Regions from separate parts of the Homo sapiens genome. Here region 2 is linked to region 1. Evidence: fine-mapped expression QTL. A gene starts in region 1. The other region holds a variant in brackets. All regions are shown on one strand. Distances are from middle to middle.

Region 1 (2,912 bases):
TGATCCTACCCACCTCAGCCTCCTGAGAAGCTGGGACCACAGGCTCGCGCCACCACATCCAGCTAATTTTTTGTAGAGACAGGGTCTCCCTGTGTTGCTCAGGCCAGTCTCGAACTCTGGGACTCAAGCGATCCACCTGCCTGGGGCTTCCCAAAGTGCTGGGATGCCTAAGTGCCAGGCATGATTTGCACTTCTACCACTTTTAGTTACTACTTTAGACAGTTCCACATCCTGACCATTTTGAACTTAAAGCATCCTGTGAGATGAAAACTGGAACCTTCTGACTTTGTCTATTATTCATCTCCTCAGTCTAAACCTGTAGCTTTTTTTAGATGCTAATGCCATACTGTCATGTGGAATTTCTAGCATTCTGTGAATGGAATCCATATTAATATACTTTAAGCACTTACACCACAGTTATCTTAAACTGTAGGCTATTTATTTGGATCTTACTTACATGTGTGAGAAAAGTAGAAAAAGAAGATGCCTCCTTTCCATGTTCACAAATCAGTAACAGCAGTAAAATGAAAGGAATTTACTTTCTCTAATGTCTCACTCCAAAGTTCCGAAAACCTCTTTTTAACATACAATGACTATTGTCCTGTGGACTTTTTTTTTTTGAGATAGAGTTTCACTCTTGTTGTCCAGGCTCAAGTGCAGTGGTGCAATCTCAGCTCCCTGCAACCTCCACCTCCCAGGTTCAAGCGATTCTCCTGCTTCAGCCTCCCGAGTAGCTGGGATTACAGGCGCCCGCTGCTACCATGCCCAGCTAATTTTTGTATTTTTAGTAGAGACAGGGTTTCATTCACTATGTTAGCCAGGCTGGTCTCAAACTCTTGACCTCAGGCGATCCACTCGCCTCAGCCTCCCAAAGTGCTGGGATTACAGGCATGAGCCACCGCGCCTGACCCCGATGAGCCATTTTGGACCCAGGGCTTTGTCTGTCAGGTGTGTTGGATGAAGCCCAGTTATATGCTTAAGTCTCTGGCTTCATCCTGTCATCCCAATTTGGAAGCCCATTAAGAAAGTGAGCTCTGTTTTGTTTTTAGTGATCACTACATTTTCCCCTAAACTCAGAGAAAGATCTATGAGCACGTAAAGCATCAAGGTTGTGGCTTTCAACAGTCTCTAGGGGGTTATTAAAGAGGAACTCTCTCTCTCTCTGAAAACCCACTTATTTTTCACTACGAAGGATAAAAGGGCCCTTTGTCATATATTGGGTCAAGGTCCAGAGTCTACACTTGGGTTTAAAGGATGCACTGCTGAGGATATGGTGTGTGCAGGGAAAAGGGAAGCCGCTTGCGTGGCAGTCGGGCGTAGAAGTGACTTTGTTGTATGTGGTATAACTTTTGAGCCCTGTCTCTACTAAGAGTCTGGACTTCGCATAAGTGCTTCACAGAAGGTCGACATCCCCCTTTTTGGGCAAGGGATTTCTGGTAGGCTGGGATGAGAGAAGTTGATTTCCAAACCAGAATTAATGAATGTCTCTACCGTACTTAGAAATACTATTTAAGCAAGGCTCTGAAGTTGCTTAACTTTTGTCTCTATTTGAAATTCTAGGGTGACAATGAAGAACAAGAAAAATTACTGAAGAAAAGCTGTACGTTATATGTTGGAAATCTTTCTTTTTACACAACTGAAGAACAAATCTATGAACTCTTCAGCAAAAGTGGTGACATAAAGAAAATCATTATGGGTCTGGATAAAATGAAGAAAACAGCATGTGGATTCTGTTTTGTGGAGTATCCTTCCCATGGATCTAATGTAGCTGCTGAACCAGGGTAGAGCTGAGAGTGGTAGCTCATAAGCGTCCCTGCACTCGTCCCTACGTTTTCCTTCATCTCCCTCCTACTTTCCACCCAGTGTGTCTCTGCCCTTATACTGTAAAGCTGATACTATTTATATTCTCTTCTGAAATCCATGCTTTATGGTTCTTTAACAAAAAGTTTTTCAAGAATGTTTGCCCTTCACGTAAAAAAAAAAAAATTCCAAAGAATGTAGTGAAAATATAAAAATCTCGTACTGTTCTAAACCCCTAATGCCCTTTGCCAGAGGCAGTCAGTTACCAGTTTCTTGGGCGTCTTTCAAGAAGTAACCCTGTGGGTGTGCGGTAGTGTATTTCATGTGCTGTTTTTAAAATCATTTTTTTATTTTTTATTGTTCCATTTCAGCATATGTAGGTCTTTTTTTAAAATAGCTGTACAGCTGGGCATGGTGGCTGGTGTTTGTAGTGCCAGCTGCTCAGGAAGCTGAGGCAGGAGGATCAGTTGAGCCCAAGATTTCAAGGCTGCACTGAGTTGTGACTGTGTTCCAGCGGGGGTGACGGGTTAAGACCCCATCTTTAAAGAAAAAAACTTTTAAGTAAATAGCTGTATAGTATTTCATTATATAGATGTATATAACCTGACTGTATAGGTACAAACCAAAACTATTTACTTTGATCATTTAATTCCCTTACTCAGACTCTTTTAAGTATTGGACCTCTTGGATTTATCCTATGTTCTTTTTACTGTATGTTTTGGTCATTCAATTTAATATTCTGAGAAATTTTGCAGGCCCAATTTAATATATCTTTTGAATTTTTTCCTGTGCCCTGAATTATGTTTGTTTCGGTTGAAATTTTTCCTTAAGTGTCTGGTGATCCCTGGATTTCTGCTCATAATTAAGGAAAAGAATGCTGACTCACTGGACCCAGGCAGGGCTTCTCTCCCAGATTGCAGGCTTGCCTCGGGGATACACAGGTTTCCCAAATGCTAGAATGAAAAGAGATTTTATTTTGGCTTGCTAACATCAAAGATACTAGTTTCTCCAGATGGTTTATTCAGAACACTGTTGTCTTATTTTTATTTGTCTGAGATTAAATGTCTTCCCCTTTAATTAAAGGGAGGTCTCTGATGAAGTAGGTTTGGGAA
Region 2 (2,912 bases), 760 kb after region 1:
TGGGAGGAGGACCTGTTCCCCGCCTCTCTCCCGGCTTCGTCCGGAAGCCTGACTCCAGGCTTCATGTGGTGTTCTCCCTGCTGGTGGCTCTGCCTCTGTCCTGTGTTCTGCTTGTTATAAGGACACCAGTCGTATCGAATGAGGGTCCACTCTAATGAGTGCCTCTCACCTTGAGCACCTCTGTAAAGACGGTGTCTGCAAACGGGGTCACGGCTTAAAGTATTAGGGGTTAAGACTCCAACATATCTTTTTTGGAGGGACAGAATTTAATCCATAAATGTTTAAAAGTAGTAGAATACACAAAATGTGATACCATTAGCATAAAGTTTAAGGATACGTACATACATAACCGTCTAATGAAAAGGAAGGGAATGATAAAGGCTAGGTTTGGAATGTGACTCCTCTCGGGTTGAGGGAGGGAAAGGTGACTGGGGCTTCCCATGCCTGGGCATTCGTCTAGTTCTTTTTTTTTTTTTCCCCAAGACAGGGTCTCACTCTGTCGCCCAGGCTGGAGTGCAGTGGTGCGATCTCAGCTCACTGCAAGCACCGCCTCCCGGGTTCACGCCATTCTTCTGCCTCAGCCTCCCGGGTAGCTGGGACTACAGGCGCCTGCCACCACGCCCGGCTAATTTTTGTATTTTTAGTAGAGACGTGGTTTCACCGTGTTAGCCAGGATGGTCTCGATCTCCTGACCTCATGATCCGCCCGCCTCGGCCTCCCAAAGTGCTGGGATTACAGGCGTGAGCCACCGCGTCCGGCCATCTATTTCTTAAGCTCAATGGCAGATGCATAGGTTTGTTTTAATATTCTTGATAACATAAAACATACCAGTTAATGGAAAGTAGGGGGCATAGTGGGGGGTCTGCACAGTCAGCCCGGAGGATTCAACCTGGTGGTGGGTCTGGAATTTAAAAGGTATAAAAAAATTTTGTCCAGGCGCGGTGGCTCACGCCTGTAAACCCAGCACTTTGGGAGGCCGAGGCGGGCGGATCACCTGAGGTCAGGGATTTGAGACCAGCCTGGCCAACATGGCAAAAATTTGTCTCTACTAAAAATAGAAAAATTAACCAGGTGCGGTGGCACATGCCTGCAATCCCAGCTACTTGGGAGGCTGAGGCCGGAGAATCGCTTGAACCCAGGAGGTAGAGCTTGCAGTGAGCTGAGATGGTGCCACTGCACTCCAGCCTGGGCAACAGAGC[G/A]GGACTTCATCTCAAAAAATAAATAAATAGATAAAAGTTATAAAAACATTTTTAAAATAAAACATTAAAAAAACCACGTTATGGCAAAGCACGATGGCTCACACCTGTAATCTCAGCACTTTGGGAGGCTGAGATGGGTATATATATGTATATAACGTGTTATTTTTATTTAGGGAGTAATTTATAAGTGAAGATTTATTTATTTATTTATTTATTTATTATTTTTGAGACAGAGTCTTGCTCTGTGGCCCAGGCTGGAGTGCAGTGGCACGATCTCGGCTCACTGCAACCTCTGCCTCCCGGGTTCAAGTGATTCTCCTGCCTCAGCCTCCTGAGTAGCTGCGATTACAGGTGCCTGCCACCATGCCCAGCGAATTTTTGTGTTTTAGTAGAGACAGGGTTTCACCATGTTGGCCAGGCTGGTCTTGAACTCCTAACCTCAAGTGATCTGCTCGCTTCGGCCTCCCAAAGTGCTGGGATTACAGGCATGAGCCACTGCGCTCAGCCTAATAAGTGCAAATTTAAATAAAGAATCAGAGAAAAGAAGTGTAGACAACGCTTCGGAGCCATTTTGCTGCAGAGAGAAGGAAGGCAGCGGGTGACGGCTGGAGGAGGATGAGGGAAGCTTCCCTCTTTTGCACGTGAAGCACTAGGTTCAGAGGTTAAGTGACTCACGCAGGCTCACACAGCCAGCCTGGCTCAGCCTGGAATGGCACCCATGCCTCTGACCCCCAGCACTTTCCTGCCCTAGAGGTGCTGCCTCTTTCTTGTGGTCATTATCAGGGTCATCGGATGCTGCCCCTGCATCCGAGGTAGGGTTGGTCTCCCCTGCTCCTACCAGAGCTCCAAGAGTCCCAGAGCCTTGGAGTGAGAAAGGCCCACCCTGTGACCCCTCAACACACTTGTTAGAACATCCTTCTTGCTCGTCTCTTGCTGTGCTATGAGATCAGCTTCCAGAAGTGGGAGTGATGGCGCATCTCTGGTTTAATGCATGCTTATGTGTGTTGCAGAGCTATCGTGCTGTGTAACGGGAACGCTGCAGCCACTGGGCATTGGGTGGTCAGCCGGGGTAGGGGCCTGACTCTGCCATTTGCTCAGTTTGACCCTTGGTCAAGTTCTTCACCTTTTCGGAGGCTCATCTGCAAAAGGGGGCTAATGCCTGCTCCCAGGATGGTACCGAGGACTGAGCGAGCCCAGCAGGGGGGCTGCCTGCCACACAGCAGGCGCCGAGTGAACGAGTGAACGCAGGGGTTTTTCCCGGGCCCCGCCACCACTCCGTTTCTTTCACAGGCAAGTCTGGGTCTCATTGACCTCTCTGGGACCAAGTGCAGACCACCCACCACACACCGCCCCACTGGCTGAGGAGACTAGGACACGGTTTTCTTTTTCTTTTGAATGTTCCCATAGGTTATTGGGGTACGGGTGCTATTTGGTCACATGAGTAAGTTCTTTCGTGGTGATTTGTGAGATTTGGGTGCAACCATCACCCAAGCACTATACGCTGCACTCTATTTGTAGTCTTTTATCCCCCGACCCCCTCCCACCCTTCCCCGCAAGTCCCCAAAGTTAGGACCTGGTTTTCTGAGTTTAGGAGACAGGGTCGCAGCCACTGCCCTGGAGAGAGTTTTACTGGCTCCTGTGAGTGCCAGGATGTGGGCATGAGACAGCTGACACTCAGGCTGAGTCCAAAGATGGCCCCAACTGACCCCACAG

What was found.
Region 2: its variant is fine-mapped to the expression of NCBP2-AS1 in testis (GTEx, PIP 0.93).

Annotation. Positions count from the first base shown.
Region 1 is chr3:196,938,081-196,940,992 of GRCh38, reverse strand. NCBP2-AS1 (NCBP2 antisense RNA 1) reads right to left here and starts at 1,116. Exons shown (of 3, transcript NR_046630.1): 1 at 866-1,116; 2 at 1-19. It overlaps NCBP2 (nuclear cap binding protein subunit 2), which reads left to right. Exons shown (of 4, transcript NM_007362.5): 2 at 1,561-1,742.
Region 2 is chr3:196,174,872-196,177,783 of GRCh38, reverse strand. No RefSeq gene overlaps it. Among named protein-coding and RNA genes, the nearest start is that of LINC00885, 34 kb to the right of the region's middle. The variant G/A (reference allele first, on the strand shown) is at 1,200.